Linked DNA regions of Homo sapiens: region 1 is linked to region 2. The links come from fine-mapping of genetic effects on gene expression. A gene starts in region 2. The other region holds a variant in brackets. All regions are shown on one strand. Distances are from middle to middle.

The links. PIP is the estimated chance that this variant, and not a neighbour inherited with it, causes the effect. A credible set is the group of variants that fine-mapping cannot tell apart.
Region 1: its variant is the best candidate, but not a certain one, in a credible set for the expression of MIF-AS1 in cerebral cortex (GTEx, PIP 0.51).

The regions. Positions count from the first base shown.
Region 1 is chr22:23,146,887-23,152,263 of GRCh38, forward strand. It overlaps RAB36 (RAB36, member RAS oncogene family), which reads left to right. Exons shown (of 11, transcript NM_004914.5): 3 at 3,177-3,268. It also overlaps a transcript of RSPH14 not described here. Among named protein-coding and RNA genes, the nearest start is that of RAB36, 4.1 kb to the left of the region's middle. RefSeq lists enhancers at 2,587-3,087, 3,088-3,588. The variant A/C (reference allele first, on the strand shown) is at 3,009.
Region 2 is chr22:23,896,457-23,901,833 of GRCh38, forward strand. MIF-AS1 (MIF antisense RNA 1) reads right to left here and starts at 2,474. Exons shown (of 3, transcript NR_038911.1): 1 at 2,388-2,474.

The DNA of each region.
Region 1 (5,377 bases), 750 kb before region 2:
GCCTGGAGGTTATAAGGGCTGGGATTTTGCAGCCAGACAGTCCTTGATGTGAATCCTTCATTCTGATTCTGTCATTAAGCTGTGTGGCTGTGGGCAAATTACTCAACCTCTCAGAGCCACTGTTACATGAAGGTAATTCCTCTCATATTGGGTGCCTGGCTCATGGTATGCAGGAGCTCCCCTGCAGTCATAGTTGCTGTTGTTCTCATCATCGTTGTTGTTATCAAAACAGCATTCCAGTTCCATGACCCCAAATCCAGGGCTCTCTCCTCTTGCCATTCCGCCTCTATGAGCTTGAAAACTCACAGCTCTCTTGTGTCTGTATTAAAATCCAATATTAATTGCAGCAGGGAATACAAATTGAGTACAACCTCCATAGGGGGCAGTGGACAATATTTACCAATATAGAAGATGACCCTGCCCTCTAAGATCCAGCCATTCTGTTTCTTTTTTCTTTTTTTTTTAGAGACAGGATCTTGCTCTGTCACCCAGGCTGGAGTGCAATGGTGCCATCATAATTCACTCCTCTAACTCCTGGGCTGAAGCAATCCTTCTGCCTCAGCCTCCCGGAGTAGCTAGGACCACAGGCATGTGCTACCATGCCTGGCTAATTTTTAATTTTTTTTAATAGAGATGAAGTCTTGCTATGTTGCCCAGGCTGGTCTTGAACCCCTGGCCTCAAGCAATCCTCCCACCCGGGCCTCTCAAAGCACTGGGATTATAGGTGTGGACCACCACAACTGGCCTTGCTATTCTATTTCTAGGAATTTACTTGGCAGATATTCTGGCATGGGTTTACAATGTGCATAAGGATAGGGGTTGGAGCAGTTTGTAAGAATAGAAGATAAGATACAACGTAAACATCCTCGGAGAGGGGACTGGTTAAACAAGTAATGCTTCCTGGCACAGACATGAGGAAGAATGAGGCAACCTCTTCAGGAGCTGACATGCAACGAGAGCCAAAGTAAACCGTTAAGTAAAAATGCAGGGCATGGAACAGAGTGCAGTAGAGTGTGTGCAGCACACTCCGGTGTGTGAAAACAAGGAGAGGGAGAAATGTCTATTTGTTTATATATGCAGAAAATATTTCTGGCAGGATATATAAGCCCCTACTCTCAGTGGTTGCCTCTGTGGCTTCGGACAGGTGCAGAGGGATAGATCCTCTCCATGGAATGGCCTTTTTTGCATCTTGGATTCTGTGGCCAGGCTGGTGAGGAGGAGGTGACTCTAGACAGGTCCTGGGTATTTGGAGTATGTGGCTCTTCCTCCTTCCCCCTTCTTTACCTTCCTCCCTAAGTTCCTTCTTCACACACCTACAGAGAAAGGCTTTGTGTCTCAGACCTGTGGACAGTTCCCCATGGGTTTTCCATCTCAACAGAGGCTCAGGCAATTATTCTCTCTGCAGAGCTTGACAGTGGTAACTAGGGATGACAGAGACTGGTCTTTCTTGAGTCAAAAGGAAGGAAAGTGTGATTGGCACAAAACAGTCCAGGTATCATGAGATGAAGAACCTCATTGGCAGAGCAGACGGCGAGGATCAGAGTTAAGGAGGGTTGCCTGACATCACACAGCTGCTCCTGGTACCTCTGGGATTTGACCTGGCCGTGTCTGGCTCCAGAGCACCCTACCCCAGGGAAGCAGCTTAGGGAATCCATCCTGGTTTCACAGGTGGCATTCTCCCCTCCTGCCCATAATAGTCAGGGATCAAGGCCACTGCTGGTCAAGTTCATCCTGCACCCCAGGGCCCTGAGAAATTCAGTCAGGTTGAGCAGGGTCTTCAGACTGCTTGCCAGGCAAGTCCTTCCCTTTATGCCATGTGCCTCAGTTTCCCTGTCTCTGAAATCAGCTCACACTTCTTACCCTGCAGCCTTCATTATCACAGTCTTCCAGCCATCCTGTAATGACCATTGTGTCTGAGCCAGTCCCTAGCTTAAAGCTGTCATGGAAGCTGACAGAAAGAAGCAGCCAGCTTGTTCATGGTAGCTGCTGCTCTTCTGCAGGAAAGTAGACTATCAGGCTAAGCTGCTCACCTGCATTATTCAGTTACTCCTCCAACGACCACATGAAAAGGTGCTATTATGAGCATCCCTGTTTAATATTTAAGGAAACTGGAGCTCGATAAGTTTCTGTAACTTGCCCTTTGCCAGTCTCCTTTCACCATCCCTGCTGCCTCAATCACAGCTGGAACTGAGAGGGCAGATGGGCCAGGCAGAGCCCGAATCCATGGTTGAGACACTGCGGCTGAGGGAGGGGAGCTGTGGATCCAAGCAGTGTTCAGAGGGACAGAGCAGGTGGCTGTGGCTGTGCAGGGGTGGGGGGCGGGGGGCGGGACCCTTGCCATACACAGATCACACCAACAGCCTCAATGGTGTCCTTCTCCCCACATCCTTGCCACATTCTGTATTTAGCCTGGGCCAATCCAATGGCAAAAAATAATGGTCATCTTTAGTTTGTTTAATCTCATTTTTTTCTAATTACAGACCAGGTGAGGGTGGGTGGGGTACGTGCAGTTTTTTCTGACCCTGAGGCCCATGCTCTTAAACCACTGCTCAGGTCTGCCTTCCAAGAAACGTGGACAGCAGAAAGCGCCTCCTAGGACATTTTCCAGGCACATGTATGCATGTTTTTAAAACAAAATGTCATCAGAGATTCATAGAAGGTATGGATTAGAGACAGGGTCTCACTCTGTCACCCAAGTTGGAGTGCAGTGGCATGATCATAGCTCACTGCAGCCTCTGTCTCTTGAGCTGAAGCAATCCTTCCACCTCAGCCTCCTCAGTATCTAGGACCACAGGCATGTACTACTGCACCTGGCTAATTGGATCTTGGAGGATCTTGGCACCAAAAGAGCTCCACTCGTCTCGCCCTGAGAGGGTTGAGACCCAGAGCAGACAGGCCTGTCACATGCATGCAGCAAGGGAACTGCGGCCCCAGGTGAGACACAGATCTCCAAGTCCCTGCCTGGGCTCGCCCCTCTGGACTCACAAGGCCCCAGAGCCTCAAGGCTG[A/C]GGAAATAGAAGATACACATGACAAATGGGTCAGGGAAAGCTAATGAGGCTGCCAGCTGTGAGGCCTAGGAAGGAAGGCTGGGAAGATCATCTCCCCTCACTGCTTGGCTACGAGGGCGGAGCCACAGCTTTGCAGGATGATGTGTCCGTCTGTCTGTCTCTTTGCAGTGGTACACGCCGGAAGCCTGTTTGCAGCTCAGGGAGCACTTCCACGGGCAGGTCAGCGCTGCCTGCCAACGCAGGAACACGGGGACTGTCGGGTGAGCCTGCAGGGTGTGGGATGGGGGAGCAGGTGGCAAGAAGGAATGAGTGCATGAAGCACGTGAAAGAATGAACAAATGAAACACACACACGAGGCTGGTGCAGCCCTGTACAGGCCTGAAGATGACTGGGGTTTTCTTTTTTTTTTCTTTTTTTTTTTTTTTGAGACAGAGTCTCGCTCTGTCGCCCAGGCTGGAGTGCAGTGGTGCGATCTCAGCTCACTGCAAGCTCTGCCTCCCGGGTTCATGCCATTCTCCTGCCTCAGCCTCCCGAGTAGCGGGGACTACAGGCGCCCGCCACCACGCCCGGCTAATTTTTTGTATTTTTAGTAGAGACGGGGTTTCACCATGTTAGCCAGGATGGTCTCGATCTCCTGACCTCGTGATCAGCCTGCCTCGGCCTCCCAAAGTGCTGGGATTACAGGTGTGAGCCACCGTGCCCAGCCAGATGACTGGGGTTTTCATCTGGCTTCAGTTAACACACCTGCCATATGGAACAACTTTCCCTCTTCTAAGTCACGCAGGTGATTTTTCAGCCTCAGGTCTTGGTACAAGTTCATTTCCTCTGTCTGGAATGTCTTTCCTAATCCCCTCGCTTCCCCTTCCCCTTCCCCTTCAGGTCTCAGCGTGTCAAGTCCTCTGGGAGCCTTCTCTGACCCCCCACTACCCTTGCCCCTGGACTGGGGAGGGTACCCCTCCTGGGTGCTCTTGTGCCCCCAAGAACTTATCTCACAGAATTGCAGGCTGGATTCCTCACTAGACCTAGCCCAAGAGGGCGAGGGCTGTGTCTGTCCTCTTCCTGCCGCGGCAGCTCCTGCCACCACTGGCAGAGGGATTGTGAAATAGTCATTCCTTCTTTTAACAAATAGGTACAAGGGCCTGCTTTTGCCCCTCTTCCTAAGGAGCTCATAGTCTGCTCAGGGAGTTGGCTGAGCTCACAGGGGTCACAGAGGTGCGATGAGGCTGCCAGAGAGCGCAGCTAGAGGTTCCCAAACTGCACAGAGTGGGTGAGGCAGAGCTGAGATCAGAATAGCCGAAGTGGCCATGGTGGTGGGATGAGAGTAATGGCATCTGTTGGGGAATGCTGGTGCCATATCAGGTGCTTCACACAGATGATCTCCCTGATCCCTTATGGCAGCACTGGAGGTGGGGAAACTGAGGATCAGAGGGTACCTGCTGTAAGACCTTGTCAACACCTTTACTCATTCATAGGAGAAATGGAGTCAGAACGAAAGGGCCCTCTGGGAGCAGGGTAGACACAATCCCTGCTCTCACGGACCTGGCAAGGTGACCTGCAGCCCAGGTCACCAGGTGACACAGTGGTGCCCTCTTGCTGTCTGCAGGCAGAGGAAGTGCCTGTCAGATATTTACCCAGGTTGGTTGCTGTGACCATTTGGCTCCTTGGGGATGAGCTGCAAAAACTCTTAAAGTGTTGTCAACAGTCCCAGGAAGCTGGGACAATGGCACCTGTAGTCCCAGTTACTCAGGAGGCTGAGGTGGGAGGATCACTCGAGCCAAGGAGTTTGAGACTACTAGCCTGGGCAACACAGCGAGACCCTGTCTCTAAAAAAATAATAAACAGTCCGAGAAACGCCTCTGCACAGAGTGTAGGACACACAGAGGGTGAGGGTGGCGGCTGCTCTTGGGGAACAGTGACCCACAGAGAGCCCAAGAACCTCAGAGCCGATTTGCCTCAAGCCACAGCCCGGATGCATAGAGCCTCAGCCCTGTTCGGGGTGTGCCCCTTGGCCTGTCGGACCCTTACAGATCTCTAAGTGAGCAGGGCACGGTGGTGTCATGGTCAGGGAGTGCCTGCTTGCAAGAGGCCGGAGCCCACATCGGCGCACAGCCCCGGGGGTGCATAGGAGGGTGAGGGGCTGCCCGTCCCTTTTGCCGGGGTCTCCCTGCACGTGGACCCTGTGTCTGCACCCTCAGCACAGCTCCCGGACAGCACAGACGTGCCCACGGCTGTTGGTTGGTTACCACAGCCACACCCTGGCCTCCTGCCTCTGCCCCTCCACCTGTGACTCGGCCTCTTGTTATGCCCATTCCTAATTCTCAGGATGGGGACTTTGGCCAAATATGGTGAGGGGTGCAGCTCTAGGGGCA
Region 2 (5,377 bases):
TTATCACATCCCCTCAGCTCCTGGGTGCCCCCAGCCCCAGCCTCCCAAGGCCTGAGGCTGAGCTTTGCCCAGGACCCCCAGTTCCCCCCACAACAAACTCTTTCTGCCTCGGGCCCCACACCCCACCAAGCCCTGGCTGGCCCCCTGGCTCCCACCCCGCCTCAGCGGTCTTTGCTCTCGGCTGTGTCACAGATAGGGAGAGCAGGGGCGCAGTGCCCCATGAGCATCTAATGCAACTCCCTCATTTCACAGATGAGGACACTGACCCCAGGATCCAGGGCATGGTCATACACTCAATGCCATGCCCCCTGCAAGGGCCCTGTGGCCTCACATGAGCAAGTTAGACTCTGAGGGCCGAGGAGATGGGCAGGGCAGGCTGGGCACCTGCTGTGTGAGGGCAGGAGGGTTGGTGAGAGCTGTCCTCCAAAAGCAGGTGAGTGTCTGAGGTTCTGTGGCCCCCTGGGGGCATCCACAAGGTCATGGGTCCTTGGACTCCAGGAACAAAGGGGGTGTCTGTGGGTCAGGGACCTATCCGCTTGCCCTGCCCAAAGTGTTCCTAAGTCCCCTGGGACTAATAACCGGCCTGCCTGCTGGGGAGGTCAGCTGCTACATCCCACCTTCAAGCCACACCTGCCCCCATTGACCCCCATCCCATGGCCAGCTCCATTTCCTCCAAAGCACAGGCTCCACTGCCCACCAGGTGGTGGGTCTCTTCCTCAAACCCCTGTTTGACTGCCCCAGGACCTGCAGGGTCAGCCTTGGAAATGCATTTCCAAGTAACGCCACAAACTCTGAGGTACAGGACAGACAGGTGTGGGGTCCATCTGCCTGTTCTCCATCACTCTGGTGGTACTATGTCATCTGCTGAGAAAGACCCCCGGCCTACAGGGTGACCCTCACTCTCCTCAGGGCCACTGTTTGCAACAGACAGACAGCCTGGCAGGCCTTGAACCTCATTTTGTAGGTTCAAGGCCTGTCCCCCATCTGTCCACTATAAGCCTCACACACACCATTCTTCTGGGATACCTTCCCTGAGGCCACCTGGTCAACACCCACAGGCCCCTTTGCTTCAGCCCAGGTCCTGTTAGCTGAGGTTTCCATTTCTGGACATAGCTCCACCCAGTTCTGTGATCCGTTGGGCTGGTGGCACCAGGGGCCCCTCGGTACTTGTCCATTCTGGACAGCCCAGCAATGTAGGCTTTTCCCAAGACTTCCCACCCTGCATGTGTCCCACCTCATCCCCTCCAGGAATTTTGCTTTGTTGCAGAGACTCCCTCCCCACCACCCCCCACCGCCAGCCTCCAGACCCCACTCCCTTCTGGGAGCCCGATTCCAGCAAGATCAGGATCAGGCTCCCACTCTGCTCCTTCTACTGGCCTCAGTTTTTCCCATCTGTGAAATGAAGGGATTCATCAGAAGTCCTTCCCACATACTCAATCACGGAGGCATGACAGGGACATCTCACATCCTCAGAGGCACGGTTAATCCAAGGAATGCCATGGGAAGGGAGGAGACAGCAGGTGGCCTGTGCCTGCACTCAGGTCTTGATAAATTGTGAAATCTCTCCCTCACCCCTTCCTCGGAGGGCACTATTGTTCCTGATGTGCCAGCCTTGATGGCAGTGGATAGGGAGGCAGGGACAGAGACAATGAGGAAGTGTGGTTAGGTATCTACTTAGAAGTCTCCAGATGGAGCCGGGAAGTGCTAGGAGGCCAGTGAGGCCAGTCTGTGCAGCAGGGCAAACGAGTGGTATCCTGCTGGGATGCAACTCAAATGCCTTCACTGGGAACTGCTCCCCCACCAGCCCCACACTGAAGGGCTGGCTCTACCACTCACAGGAGCTGGCAGGGCAGGCAATGAGACAACCCTACTGCCTCTAATGCAGTAGATAAAATTAATGCAGGGCCAACCCTCATATCAGAGTGGTTTTTCAGTTACCTGGACAAGTGCCAAGGGAGGGGCCCCTGGGGCCACCAGCCCAAAGACCACAGAACTGAGTGGAGCTCTCTATGTGCAGGAGACACACACAGAGATCAACTGATCCTTGGAGCTTGGGAGATTTCCAGGATTTCTGGGCCACTGACACTGTTTCTATAAAGCCCTCTTTGGCCATCTCAGTTCCTTTCCAGGCTAAGCAGTGAAAGCCAAGTCTTAGTTCTCCAGGCCTGGGCCTTCCTGAGTAATTTACAGGACTGGTGTGAGGGACAATGTCAACCCACCAGCCAACTGCCCAGATTTCCCCTCCTGGCGAGTGAGGCCAAGCCACTTCATTTCTATGTTTGAAGCCCATGTAAAAGAAACAGAGATTGTCAGTTTCAGAAACCGACTCTGTCCCTTCAGTCCTGGAACCTCAGGCCTCATCTGGTGACTATGGGGTCTCAACTTACAGTTTAGCTCTCAAAACAGCCAGACAGAGCACCAAATTGAAAGGCTACAAATGAGAAGTATCGTCCCCACCGCCCCAGTGACTTGGCTTCTTGCGTACCTAGTTCTCTTCTCAGTTTAATAGGTAATAGATTTATATGGCTCAAATTCAAAGCATGCCCAGGGGCTCCAGAGAGAAGGCTCCCTCCTGTTGCCTCCCTCCACAGGGTAATCCTTTCTCAAATTCACTAGATCACTGCATCCAGACAGGGAGACACTGGATCCCTCGTTCATCATGGCTGCGTTCTTACCCCTCCCTAACTCCTTCCCAAACATAGCTACATCCCTTCCACTGTTATATAACCCTCCAATTTTGGCCGGTCAGGGAGATGGATTCAAGACTTATCTCCCATTCTCCTTGGCTGCAGCACCTGAATAAAGCCCTTCCTCCCGGCAGTGATTGGCTGTGCAGCATGCAATGGGACCCAGACAAAACCCCTGGTGTTTCAGTAACACATTCAGACTATGGAACAGATTAACCCCGGCTCCCTAGAATTTGTTTTCTGAAGAACAAACAAACAAGGCAATAATGTCTTATGAAAAGACATCAGTAACCTTAAGCCTGTAAACCCCATCCATCTGTAGGGCACCCCATCTCACAGCAAAGCATGGGTGACAGCTGTGTGCTGAGAAGAGTCGGAAAAGGAGCCATGCTTCCAAGAATGTCTCCCTCATAACATGATGAGATGAGTCCTTAGTGAATTGCCAACCAAAACAAAAAACACAGCTGCTAAAAAAGAAGGTTCCTCCTTTGGAATCCTTGTACTACCATATCAAAATATTGAGAAGGAGCATCTCTTGTATTGACAGTAAGGATGCTGATGACTATTAGTGAATAAAAAGCCAGAATGAAGGACATGAACTTACACACATTTAACATTTCGGCACAGGTCAAGTAACTACAATAACCTATATACAAGACAAACAAGACAAAGTATATTTAGAATACATGCGATGAGTATTGATGCAGAAATGGACATTTCTCAGAATAAGATATGACTTTACAGATACCATACAGAGAATATGATTTCATGCAGATGGAGAAGATGTGGTGGGAGTTGTGGGAGAGCAATAGAAAATACATTTCCTGGCTGGGTGCAGTAGCTCACATCTGTAATCCCAGCACTTTGGGATGCCAAGGCCAGGAGTTCAAGACCAGCCTGAGCAACGTGGTGAGACCCTGGTCTATATAAAATATATTTTTAAAAAGTTTCCTGTACCTAGAAACAAATCCAAGATGTACTCTACAGAGAACCTCTACAGAGAAAACTAACACCCTGAACGTTATTGGAGAACTAAATAAATGAAGAGACTGACCATGTCTCTGTGTTGGGAACAGGCCCCCCAAAATCTGGCCATAAACTGGCCCCAAAACCGGCCATAAACAATATCTCTGCAGCACTGTGACATGTTCATGATGGCCATAACACCCATGCTGGAAGGTTGTCGGTTTACCAGAATGAGGGCAAGGAACACCTGGCCCACCCAGGGCGGAAAACTGCTTAAAGGCATTCTTAAACTACAAACAATAGCATGAGTGATCTGTGCCTTAAGGACATGTTCCTGCTGCAGATAACTAGCCCAACCCATCCCTTTATTTTAGCCCATCCCTTTGTTTCCCATAAGGTATACTTTTAGTTAATCTAATATCTATCAATGCTAATGACTGGCTTGCTGTTAATAAATACGTGGGTAAATCTCTGTTTGGGGCTCTCAGCTCTGAAGGCTGTGAGACCCCTGATTTCCCACTTCACACCTCTATATTTCTGTGTGTGTGTCTTTAATTCCTCTAGCGCCGCTGGGTTAGGGTCTCCCCGATCGAGTTGGTCTCAGCATCTCTGTACTGGAGGCAATATTGTGCTCGTAACAGTTCTGTCTGGTTGATGATTCAGCACAGTCCCAATCAAAATTCTAACAGATTTTTCTATGGGAATTGACAACCTAATTCTAACATTTATATGAGACTCTAAATGACCAAGAAGAGTCAAAACATTTTCTTGTAGAAGGCAAGGTGTGAGGATTTGCTTTTTCAATGTTAAGACACATGATCAAGCTACACAATTAAGGCAAAGTGGAATCAGAACATGGCAGACAACAGACCAATGGAAAAAAGAGCAATCCAGAAACAGACCTCTCCACACACATGGACACAATATCAGACTGGGGGAGCATTGAAATCCACATGAAAAGAAGAACTCATTCAACTAGGGGTGCTGGGCAGCTGGCTACCATGTAAGGAGAAACATCAAACTGGGCTCCTATTTAACTCCCACACAAAAGTCAGTTCTACATAGATTACAGCCATAAAGAAAAGGCCACAAAGATCTTAAAAGATGGTGTAGAAGAATATCATCTTTATGATTTAAGTAAGATAAAATGAGTACATACAATAAGGAAAGATTGACACACTATTAGTGAGACACCGTAAGAATGAAAGACATGCTACAATTTCTGCAACTTATCTTAATGCAAGTGAGCCCCAAAACTGGGGCTCAGCCTGAGAGCGTTCTTGGCTTTGCACAGGAAATAATTTGAGAGTGACCCAACAGAAAAGAGTGAAAGCAAAGCAAGTTTATTAGAGCAACAGAGTACAGAAAAGTGGGTTTCATAGAGCATCCATACAGGTGGATGGGGTTTACAGGGCTACCCCATAGGCAGAGCAGCACTCCTGGACTACCAGCTATCTATATGTATAGCTACTTCTTATTATATGCTAAATAAGGGGCAGGTTATTCATGAATTTTCTAGCAAAGGGATCCGGAGTTCCTGGAACTGAGGGTTCCTCCCCCTTTTAAATCACATAAGATAACTTTTGGGTATTGCCGTGGCATGTGTAAACTGTCATGGTGCTGGTGGGAATGTCTTTTAGCATGCATTATCACTAGCATATAATGAGCAGTGAGGGACAAAAGTGAGGTCACTTTTGTTGCCATCTTGGTTCCAGCTGGTTTCA